Regions from separate parts of the Homo sapiens genome. Here all the other regions are linked to region 1. The links come from fine-mapping of genetic effects on gene expression. A gene starts in region 1. Each other region holds a variant in brackets. All regions are shown on one strand. Distances are from middle to middle. Region 1 holds the start of LTA4H (leukotriene A4 hydrolase). Region 2 overlaps LTA4H (leukotriene A4 hydrolase). Region 3 has its middle 20 kb from the start of TRD-GTC2-8. Region 4 overlaps LTA4H (leukotriene A4 hydrolase).

Region 1 (2,688 bases):
GCTTCCTGAGGCCTACCTGGAAGCATACTGGAGCTATGCTTCCTGTACAGCCTGCGTAACTGTAAACCAATTAAACCCCTTTTCTTCCCAGTCTCAGGTATTTATAGCAATGCAAGTACAGCCTAACATACTGTCCTCTTCATATAGACTACTACCTCTGGTTAATGACTAGCCAGCCACTGAAGCCGAAAGCCTGGGCCACCTTCGTCTCCTCTCAATCTGTGAATCCACTTATATAAGTATTCCTTCTATTCATTCCTTCCTCTCTATCCTAACTTACTACTTACCTATGTCAGGCCCCCAGCATCTTCTGATTGAGCCATTTTAATAGTTTCCTAAATCTCCTGCTAATGGTTTTGATACCGCATTTTATAACATGAGTCTGACCATGCTTTATCAGTCGCCTGCTGAAAACTCTTCAGTGGGTCCCCCATTAATGCACCCAGGATTAAAAGGCCACCTATTTAAGGTCCTTCGAAACCTAGCCTCTTCCAATTTTTCCAGTTTTAATTTTGAGGCCCCACCCTAAAGGCAAGGCATCCTTCAATCCTCCTTCACCTGCCACAAAGGCCCCAGAGCTGAGCTAGATGTCCCAGCTCTGTACTCCCATTGCGACCAGTGCATAACTTTTATAGAAATTCATTAGTTTCTAAGATGGGAATGTTGGCTTTCTCCGTTTGAGAGATGCAGGTTCTGGGGATATACATAATAAACACTGAAACTGACAAAACAACTGTTTAAACCTTGAATTACTTACAGCTAAAAACAAAAAACAATTACTGTGCCTCCCCGTCGGGGAATCGAACCCCGGTCTCCCGCGTGACAGGCGGGGATACTCACCACTATACTAACGAGGAACCGCACGAAAGAAAGCCTTCTGATAGGCCTTTTCTACGTTTTTGCTCCGCCCCGCCCTCGCTATATGCAAACACCAATGAACCTGATTTTCTTACGTTTGCCACCACAGCTTCCACGAAAGTTGAACAGAGCCAAAATGGTAGTGTTCAGTTTTATCTCCCCCTCCATTCTCATCATTTCCCTTCGGCCACCCTTCTAACTGCCCCTACTCCCCTCCTCTTCTTCAGCTCCAGGAGCACGCTTGGTCCCCCTCAACATCCCTAACACACACGCTCCCAGGTAGCCAAGCGCCCGCTTGCCGCGCGGCACCATGGAACTTGTAGTTCCTTCACCCATCCCCCAACGCTCGTCTGACTTTAAGAAACTTCCTTTCCCGGCGTGCACCGCGAATCCCTCCTCCTCTTCTTTACCTCTCTCCCTCCTCCTCAGGTTCTCTATCGACGAGTCTGGTAGCTGAGCGTTGGGCTGTAGGTCGCTGTGCTGTGTGATCCCCCAGAGCCATGCCCGAGATAGTGGATACCTGTTCGTTGGCCTCTCCGGCTTCCGTCTGCCGGACCAAGCACCTGCACCTGCGCTGCAGCGTCGACTTTACTCGCCGGACGCTGACCGGGACTGCTGCTCTCACGGTCCAGTCTCAGGAGGACAATCTGCGCAGCCTGGTACAGTGGGGCGCCTGCCCAGTGCCCGCCTCTCCCGGGCTCCCTGCCCCTCGACCCTAGTCCTTGCGGGCTCCCGGATCTCCGGCTCACCCCGCCGCGGCCCCTGCCTAGCCCCACGTCCCCGTCTGCTCTTCTGTAGCCTCCATCCAACTCATGTTGTGCACTTCAGCCCCCAGATCTCTCACAGCACCCCTTCTCAACCCCGCTTACGCCTCTGCATCCCTTCCCTCAGCCCCCACTTATACGTATGTCTCCTCCGCCCCTCGCCTGGATCCTCTCTCCGAGGTCCCTGGGCACATCCAGCGCCTCGTCCACTCCTCTCAACTCACCCAGCCCTTAGGTGTCATCTTTGCAGTAGCCCCCATAATTTTAGTTCCTGGCTCTAATTACTCCATGGCCTCCCCATTGCTTCGGCCTGCGGCCCAGAACCCCCTTCTTCAGGCCCCAGACTTTTCCCAGCCCCCTGGGCACCTTCCTCAGTCAACAATCTCACCCAAGTCTCAGATCCCATGTCCTGTCGATCCCTGATCCCACGGTTGCCTCCCGGGAACACTTATTTCAATCCACAGGTCTGCAGGGCACCACCCATCCGTCTCCCTCCTAGTTCCCTGGATCTCCCTGCTAGTCGTTCTCAAGCCTCTTAGGATTTCCAGCCCCGGCCGGGCAGGCCTCTTCTTTCCGCCCTACTTTGAAACTAACAGTCCCTGCTTGCTAACTCTAGGCGCAGCTCTCTCTCTTCAGGGTCCTTTCTACTTTTTAATCTTATCAACTTTCTTCTAATAATTTAAGAACGGATGGGACGTTCAAATTTTCTAAGGATGATTCAATACGCTTTTTTAATAGTTGGTTCCAAGGAGCCAAGTAGTTATTTCACTTAGAAAACACATACTTCTACAAACTCTATAACCATTGGAATGAAGAAAGGTTGTAGATTCATGGAATATTATTCAATGATTTTATCTGTATCATAACCTATATTTAATGTTCTTGCTCAAATTGCCCAATAGTATTTGGTTTATACCTTTCATCTGAAGGTACCTTTCACCTGAAGAATTTCATAGAAGATCATTTTAAAAATAAGAGGGTCATGAAAAGACAGCCAAATTCGGCTTCTTCACCAGGGCAGGATGCTACATGTGTATTTTACACAGTGTAGCATGGTGAAATCTAC
Region 2 (2,688 bases), 20 kb after region 1:
CAAAGTGCTAGGATTACAGGTGTGAGCCACCATGCCCAGCTATTTTTTTTTTTTAATTGGAGACAAGGTCTCACTCTGTGGCCCAGGCTGTAGTGCAGTGGTGCAATCTCTGCTAACTGCAACTCCAGGGTTGCAATCCTCCCTCCTCAGCCTCCAAAGTGGCTGAGACTAAAGGCGCATGCCACTATGCCTGGCTAATTTTTGTATTTTTTATAGAGATGGGATTTCACCATGTCGCCCAGACTGGTCTCAAACTCCTGAGCTCAAGTGATCCGCCCACCTCGGCCTCCCAAAGTGCTGAGATTATAGGCATAAGCCGCCACGCCCAGCCAACAAGGATTTTTTTTTTTTTTTTTTTTTTGAGATGGAGTCTCACTCTGTCGCCCAGGCTGGTGTGCAGTAGTGTGATCTCTCTGCCTCTCAGTTCAAGCAATTCTTGTGCCTTAGCCTCCCGAGTATCTGGGACTACAGGTGCACGCCACCATGCTCAGCTCATTTTTGTATTTTTAGTAGAGACGGGGTTTCACCATGTTGGCCAGGCTGGTCTTGAACTCCTGACCTCAGATAATTCTCCCGCCTCGGCCTCCCAAAGTGCTAGGATTACAGGCGTGGGCCACCATGCCCGGCCAACAAGGATAGTTCTTAAAAATTCTGTAACACTTATTACAGCGTTAGGAGTGTTAGGTTCAGTCTAGGTGTTAAGTTTAATTCCTGATATACTCCCACTTTTAACATAGGGACATGCAAGAGCAGAAGCAGGGCTTAACTTTCCCTGCTGCCATCTGCTGGGCTGGGCTTCCCATTGCTCTGGATTGACTGCCTGGGAGCCAGAGTCGGCTTAGACTGTAGTGGTCATGCCTTACAACTGCTTTCCTCTGTAGAAAAGCCAAAAAGAAAATATCTTGATTGAAATGTCTTTTCTTCTCAGCTGTGTCCGTGTTTTTATTAAAATATTTTTTTTTCAGGTTAAATGAGGGACATACTGTGTACTTGGAACGCCACATTTGCGGACGATTGTTTGGTGAAAAGTTCAGACATTTTAATGCTCTGGGAGGATGGGGAGAACTACAGAATTCGGTAAAGGAGTCAAAGTTTTAAAAACCTTCATCCAAAGTTGTATAGGTGTTAAAAACTGAGTTTTTATAAAAGCGTCTTTACTGTGTAGCAACCAAAAAGTCATTTTTACAAGTGTGGAAAGTGAAGTCAATGCTGGTATAACACTGTGTTGATCCACACTGTTCACTGTTCTATGTAAGGTAGTTTTGATGACCTGGTCTAAATAGGGAGCTGTGGGACCTCACTGGGTCTTTGCTATTAATATAGCTGTTTACTATGTTTGCATCTTATTTGGTATGTCATTTTTAAGTGTTGTCTCCTGAAAGCCAAATTTGCTGACCAGGCATTAAATCATTTTTCTAGTCTTTTTATAAGAATAAAGCCTGTATTATTGAGCAAGAAACA[A/T]CAGAGAATATTACTTAAGTAAGCATTCTATTAATAGACTTCCAGAAGTTTATGCCAACATATCCTAGTGTTCCAGTCTCCAAGTTTTAGATTCCCCTAAAGTTACACCACTGAGTGAAGTAATACCTCCTTATTAGCTTATTTGCGTGGTGATAGCAGTCTTTCTATATGTTTCTCCATGTTATTTCATGTCTTGCAGGTAAAGACATTTGGGGAGACACATCCTTTCACCAAACTTGTGGTTGATCTGACAGATATAGACCCTGATGTAGCTTATTCTTCAGTTCCCTATGAGAAGGGCTTTGCTTTACTTTTTTACCTTGAACAACTGCTTGGAGGACCAGGTAAGTAGTTGGTATTTTATGATTTTTTTTTTCTTTTTGAGGGTAATGTGAGAATTAGGAAGAATTGTAAACTATTGTTTTGTTCCATTTAATACTTCCAATTCATTCTGGATGTAGCTGCTGAAGAAATCTGTATTGTTTTCTGAGTTACCTCTCAACTTAAAACCATTAATAACCCCTAAGGTTTAAATTATGCTGCTTCATTTTTTAAAAAATCTCATCAGTTTTTGAAATTAGGATAATAGTGTGTATTCCCTGAAAACATTTCTATGGTACAGAAGTTTATAAGAGTAACAAGTGAGAGTCCATCAACCCCTTTCCACTCCCCAGGGGTAACCACTGTTAGCAGTTTGGTGTAAATGGCTCCAGATCATTTTCTAGGTGTAAATTAACAAGCAGACAAATAAATACATGTAATTATTTTAATTACAAAAAATGGGTCATGCTATATATTGGCTCTGCATTTGTGTTTTGTTTTGCTCGATATTTCACATACACCCTTCTGTGTCAGTACATATAAATCTGTTTCATACTTTTTAATGCCATCATACTAGTTCATGATAAAGCTATGCTGAGTTATGTACCCATCCCCCACTGATGGACATTGAGGTGTTCTCCTTGGTTGATTGACTTGGAAGGCTGTCTGTCACCTGGATCCATTCTGCCTGTCCAGTCTTATTTTTCTCCTTTCTAGTCATGTGAAGGTTATTGCTTTTAGAACTTGGGTTATGCATTCCTTTTCTGTGTCTTCATGTGTTATCCCCTTACCTATAATTAGAATTTCTCTTCTCCCTTCCACTGAATTACATATATTCTTCAAGGCCCAACTTAAGTCCCACCTCCTTTTTTGAACATTCTTTCACTCTGAAAGTCCTCGTAGATT
Region 3 (2,688 bases), 20 kb before region 1:
TAGCTCCTTAGTGCTCTGATTGGCTAGACTTAAATCACATGGGCTACACCCAAAGTACGGGGTGGGGGTGGGGTGGGTTCCTGAACGCTTGTCAGAGAAGGCGGAATAGAAGCTAGTGTTAAAAGAAACAGTTTAGACAAATTAAATTTAACAGAGTTTATTTGGGCAAAGAATGATTCATGAATCAGGCAGCACTCAGAACCAGAAGAGGTTCAGAAAACTCCACTTGGCAGTGTGAGCAATGAGCTTTTCTAGGGTGAACACAAAAGCAATGTAGAGAAACCACTTGATCGGCAACAGCTAGGCATCTGCCTTATTGGGCGTGGTCTCATCAATTGGATGCTTATTATTGGCTGAAGCTTCTCTGTGATTGGCTGAAACCAGGCTATATGTTACAAAAATATACTCCTAAATTAGGTTTCAGTTTGTTTACATACTATTAGGTTGCTGTTTGTTCCACAGAAACTCAAAATATGGAGAGGGCCTCTGGCCAATGGCCTCGTGCTTATTTAATTTAACACTAGGTAGATAAAAAACAACAAATATTTCTATAGTATGGGTAAGATATATTGAGAACACAATAAACAGGTGCCTAAATCTGCATGTGAGTCACAGAAGACATCACAGCAGAGGGTAAATCCGAGTTGATGCTTGAAAAAGGAGCAGGAGTTTGCTGACAGGCAGGGAAAGCCAGGAGGATTGGGAGGGAAGGGGTCCCAGTGGCAAGAATGGCCTATGCAGAGTCACAAAAGAAAATAAACTATGTGTCCATCAGACATGGCTTGGGTGTGTGTTCCCATCAAATCCATGTGGAATTGTAGTCCCCAGTGTTGGAGGTGGGGCCTGGCGGGGAGGTGATTGGATCATGGGGGCGGATTTCTCATGAATGGTTTCGCATCATCGCCTTGGTGCTGTTCCTTTGGTGCTGTTCCCGTGATAGTGAGTGAGTGCTTGTGAGATTAGGTTTTTTAAAAGTGTACATCACCTCCTCTCTAGCTCTCTCTTGCTCTTGCTCCCACTATGTGAGACACCTCGCACCCCCTTTGCCTTCCGCCGTGATTGGAAGCTTCCTGAGGCCTCCCCAGAAGCAGAAGCCACCAGGATTCCTGTGAAGCCTGCAGAACCATGAGCCAATTAAACCTCCTTTCTTTTCTTTTCTTTTCTTTCTTTTTTTTTTTTTTGAGACGGATTTCCGCTCTTTCGCCCAGGCCGGACTGCAGTGGTGCAATCTTGGCTCACTGCAAGCTCCGCCTCCCGGGTTCATGCCATTTTCCTGCCTCAGCCTCCGGAGTAGCTGGGACTACACGCAACCGCCACCACACCCGGGTAATTTTTTGTATTTTTTTTTAGTAGAGACGGGGTTTCACCATTTTAGCCAGGATGGTCTCCATCTCCTGACCTCGTGATCCACCCGCCTCGGCCTCCCAAAGTGCTGGAATTACAGGCATGAGCCACCGCGCC[T/C]GGCCAATCTCCTTTCTTTGTAAATTACCCACTCTCAGGGTTTTTTTTTTTTTTTTTTTTTTTTTTGAGATAGAGTCTTGCTCTGTCACCCAGACTGGAGTACAGTGGTGCGATCTCGGCTCACTGCAACCTCCGCCTCCTGGGTTCAAGTGATTCTTCTGCCTCAGCCTCCCGAGTAGCTGGGATTACAGGCGCCTGCCACCACACCCAGCTAATTTTTGTATTTTTAGTAGAGATGGGGTTTCACCATAAGCCAGGCTGGTCTTGAACTCCTGACCTCGTGATCCACACGCCTCGGCCTCCCAAAGTCCTGGGATTACAGGTATGAGTCACCGTGCCTGGCTTCTTCTTCTTTTTTTTTTTTTTTGAGATGGAGTCTTGCTCTGTCACCCAGGCTGGAGTGCAGTGGCGCAATCTCGGCTCACTGCCACCTCTGCCTCCCGGGTTCAAGCAATTCTCTGCCTCAGCCTCCCAAGTAGGTAGGATTACAGATGCCTGCCACTACACCTGGCTAATTTTTGTATTTTTAGTAGAGACGGGTTTCACCATCTTGGCCAGGCTGGCCTTGAATTCCTGACCTCATGATCCACCCGCCTCGGCCTCCCAAAGTGTTGGGATTACAGGCGTGAGCCACCGCGCCCAGCAGATATTTCTTTATAGCAGTGCGAGAACGGACTAACTCACCATCTTTTTGCACAAGGCAGAGAGCCAGATTAAAAAGGCAGGTTGTGGAGCCTGATTGCTTGGTTTGAATTCCGGTTGAATCTTGGCTGCTTACTTAATTGCACCATGCTTCAGTTCACCATCTGTAAAATGGGAATAGTAATAGTACCTACCTCTCAGGCTGTTGCCAGGATTAATTGAAATGTGTTAATACATTTAAAGTGCGTAGAAGAGGGCCTGGGATATAGGAAGTGCTAAAAACAATTGCTAAATAAATCCAATGAAGTAAAATAAAATTGGTGTGATTATTAATTCATGCTGTGCTACAACCTACTTTAAAATAATGGCCTACAATTACTTGGTTCAATGCACTATAAATTTGGTTTAAAAGATCACAACAAAAGAACAACATGACTTTCTCATGATCATTTATATAGGTAACATACAATCCAGTTCCTTCTCATATATAAATTTCCCTGTTTGTAGTCATAGTGTTGTTACACTGTTATCCCACAGTTCCACATTTTATAGGAAATGTAGTTTCTCCTTCCGGCTTTTGTTGCC
Region 4 (2,688 bases), 25 kb after region 1:
TTTTTTTTAAAATATTAAGTGTTGTGGGTGAGGAAACTATTAATTTTAATGGTGATGGATTTGGACATCGTCTTGGAGATGACTTACAAAGGAGAATACAAGAAGTAAACTGTAGAACCTTAGAGGATCTTCATTTTAGAGCTAGGACAGAGGAAAGGTAGCAAAATAAATGGAAAACTAAAAAGATTTCAAAGGTTCATTGTTAAGAAAGCTGTGGGAAGAAATAATTTAAAAGTGGTACGGAGAGTGGTCAGCAGTCTGGTGTGCTGTAGAATTATGAGGAGCCTGAGAATAAAAGCATAGAATTTGGAGTTTGGAGTCTTTCAAAGACTCTAACTTCAGGGGCCTGATATAGCCAAAAGACAGTTCCAGGAAGTTTAGGAGTGGAGAAGGCTTTGCCCATTGCTTTTAAAATTGGGGAAATCTGGGTGGAAAATTAGTTCTTCAAAAGTGTTTCTTTGATATCACCGCTGCTAAGGGATCCTTTTTGGGCGTTGGTTCATTCTAGATCCCTTAAGATTGCTTTCAAGTAATACCAAAGTGCTGGAGGAACCCTGGAATCATTCGTGTGCCCGGGAATTCTGTAAAGAGAGAGTATCTTAGAAAATCTCAAACCACAGAAAATACTTTGATCCATTGCAGCACAGAATCTTGGCTTCCACGATCCTCTTTTTATAATGCTCTCATCATTTGTATATGTATTTAAATATCTGAGTCTATCCACATCTCTCCATTTCTACTACCACTGTCCAAGTTCAGTATCACATCTTCACATCCTGGAAGACTGTTCTGGCACCCAAACTGTGCACTTGTATCTGTTCTGACTTCTCCCAGCCACTCTCCACACTAAAGCTAGAGTAAACCTTTAAAAGCACAAATGTGTCATGTTGTCCTCCTGCTTAGCAGTCTCCACTGGTATCTCTTTGCTCTTGGGCTAAGACAAAATCCTTTAGTGGGGATTATAAGCTCCTAACACTCTAGCTCCCTTTGCTTCAGTCACACTGGCAGTTTTGGAGTTTCTCGAACTCCCCATATGTCCTCCAACATAGTACCTGAGCATGCTGTTTTCTCTACCCGGAGCCCTTTGCCCAGTTAATTCCAATCTCAGCTCAAGAACCACTTCCTCTTGGAAGCATTTCTTGACATCCCTGGCCAGGTCAAATCTCCCATTCTAGGGCTTTTTAGTGCTATATCCTCTCTTCGTAGCAGTTGCACAGTTCTAACTTTACATTTATTTATTCGTATGATTAAAGTATTTCCTCTTCGCTATACTGTCAGCACCATGAGAACAAGGCACATATCTGGTTTTGCTCTTTACTTTTCTGAAGACTTTGCCATAAGTAGGGTCCTTTCCCAGGCTAATTCTTAACTTAGTACTTTTAATTACACTAATAAGGAAGTTTCAGGACACGAAGAAACAGACCAGCTAAAGGTTTTCTACTTTGCTATTATTTTTTAAGAAATCAATGCTAATAATGTTTT[G/A]GTTGAAAGCAGTGTATTCTGATCAGTCAAGGACCTCTGATCCCACCTGTTCTTGAAGACAAAATGGCATGCCTGCAGTCCACAGCCTGACACTTCATGTAATAAACTGGCAGCTGCTTCGAGGTGGGAGCTGTGTTGACCTTTTTATTGTCTCCCCTAGGGAACAAACGGAGTCCCAGTCACAACTCTCTTTAAGGGAGATTCAGTGGTAACTTCTAATCAAAACTTACTTCATTTAGGCTCTAAGGGGCAGGTGCCTCTCTGTTCCCTAATACAAGCATTTCAGTACAAGCAAGCATGATTTACGGAGAAAGAGGGATGTTTTGCAAGAATTTTGCACACACTACATGTTCTTTCCCATTGTTGCAAAATATGATTTCTAAGTTGAGAACACACAAATATTGGTATAATTTGCTTAACAATTACCATGTGTTAATTTCATTTTCTTCTAAAAAGGAATGAAATCATCAGGCAATGGTATCGGGCTCTCTCAAGGGTCTAGCATCTAGAACGGTGCCAATTATGTAGCAGGTGCTTGCAGGTTTGTTAGATGATTAGATGTTTGGAACAACCAAGTAAAATCCATGACAGCAAGGACTTGATGTTGTTCATCTTGTTGTCTTGAGTGCCTAGAACTGTTCCTGCCATGTACTAAATATGCTCAACTGATTCCAACTACTTTAGCATATACTACTCGAGCACATGACAGTCTTTTGCTGAGGTGCTTTGGCATTCTTTCTAAAAGATAGATGGGTGTTTCATTAATGTGGTATCCATTTGGGTTTGTGAGTTCTTGGATGATGCCAGTAGTATGTAAGTTAGGTAAAATATTTCCTATTTTCCTCACTTTGGAGTTTGTTTTCCTTATTTAAAAGGGACTTTGAAATTTAAGTATGTACTGTAGCTTTAAAACTGCATTTCTGCAAAAGCACGTGCATTTTTAAACAATGTAATCTTTATCTTTGCAGTTATGATATGACTCTGACAAATGCTTGTATTGCCTTAAGTCAAAGATGGATTACTGTAAGTAATAATGTGTGATTTTTGATTCCTTTTTGAATTGTGCAAATATGTCTTTACTCATGAAGCAGGGAGGGTACTTTAAATCACAAACAGTTATATTTGGAAAGGCTATTTGAAAGTCAGGTTTATCTAAGGTGATATTATATCTACTCTCAATATAGAAAATTAAGGGTTTGAGACAGG

What was found. PIP is the estimated chance that this variant, and not a neighbour inherited with it, causes the effect.
Region 2: its variant is fine-mapped to the expression of LTA4H in whole blood (INTERVAL, PIP above 0.99).
Region 3: its variant is fine-mapped to the expression of LTA4H in whole blood (INTERVAL, PIP above 0.99).
Region 4: its variant is fine-mapped to the expression of LTA4H in whole blood (INTERVAL, PIP 0.95).

The regions. Positions count from the first base shown.
Region 1 is chr12:96,034,190-96,036,877 of GRCh38, reverse strand. It overlaps LTA4H (leukotriene A4 hydrolase), which reads left to right and starts at 1,291. Exons shown (of 19, transcript NM_000895.3): 1 at 1,291-1,517. The coding sequence starts at 1,359. It overlaps TRD-GTC2-8 (tRNA-Asp (anticodon GTC) 2-8), which reads right to left and starts at 857; the gene lies at 786-857. RefSeq lists enhancers at 533-582, 603-652, 1,093-1,512, 2,103-2,192 and a silencer at 1,563-1,662.
Region 2 is chr12:96,013,972-96,016,659 of GRCh38, reverse strand. LTA4H (leukotriene A4 hydrolase) reads left to right here. Exons shown (of 19, transcript NM_000895.3): 11 at 966-1,077; 12 at 1,661-1,805. Among named protein-coding and RNA genes, the nearest start is that of HAL, 19 kb to the right of the region's middle. The variant A/T (reference allele first, on the strand shown) is at 1,462.
Region 3 is chr12:96,054,492-96,057,179 of GRCh38, reverse strand. No RefSeq gene overlaps it. Among named protein-coding and RNA genes, the nearest start is that of TRD-GTC2-8, 20 kb to the right of the region's middle. The variant T/C (reference allele first, on the strand shown) is at 1,462.
Region 4 is chr12:96,008,911-96,011,598 of GRCh38, reverse strand. It overlaps LTA4H (leukotriene A4 hydrolase), which reads left to right. Exons shown (of 19, transcript NM_000895.3): 15 at 2,451-2,505. LOC102723340 (a long non-coding RNA gene) reads right to left here. Exons shown (of 4, transcript XR_945237.4): 4 at 1-1,638. Among named protein-coding and RNA genes, the nearest start is that of HAL, 14 kb to the right of the region's middle. RefSeq lists enhancers at 216-385, 1,018-1,187. The variant G/A (reference allele first, on the strand shown) is at 1,483.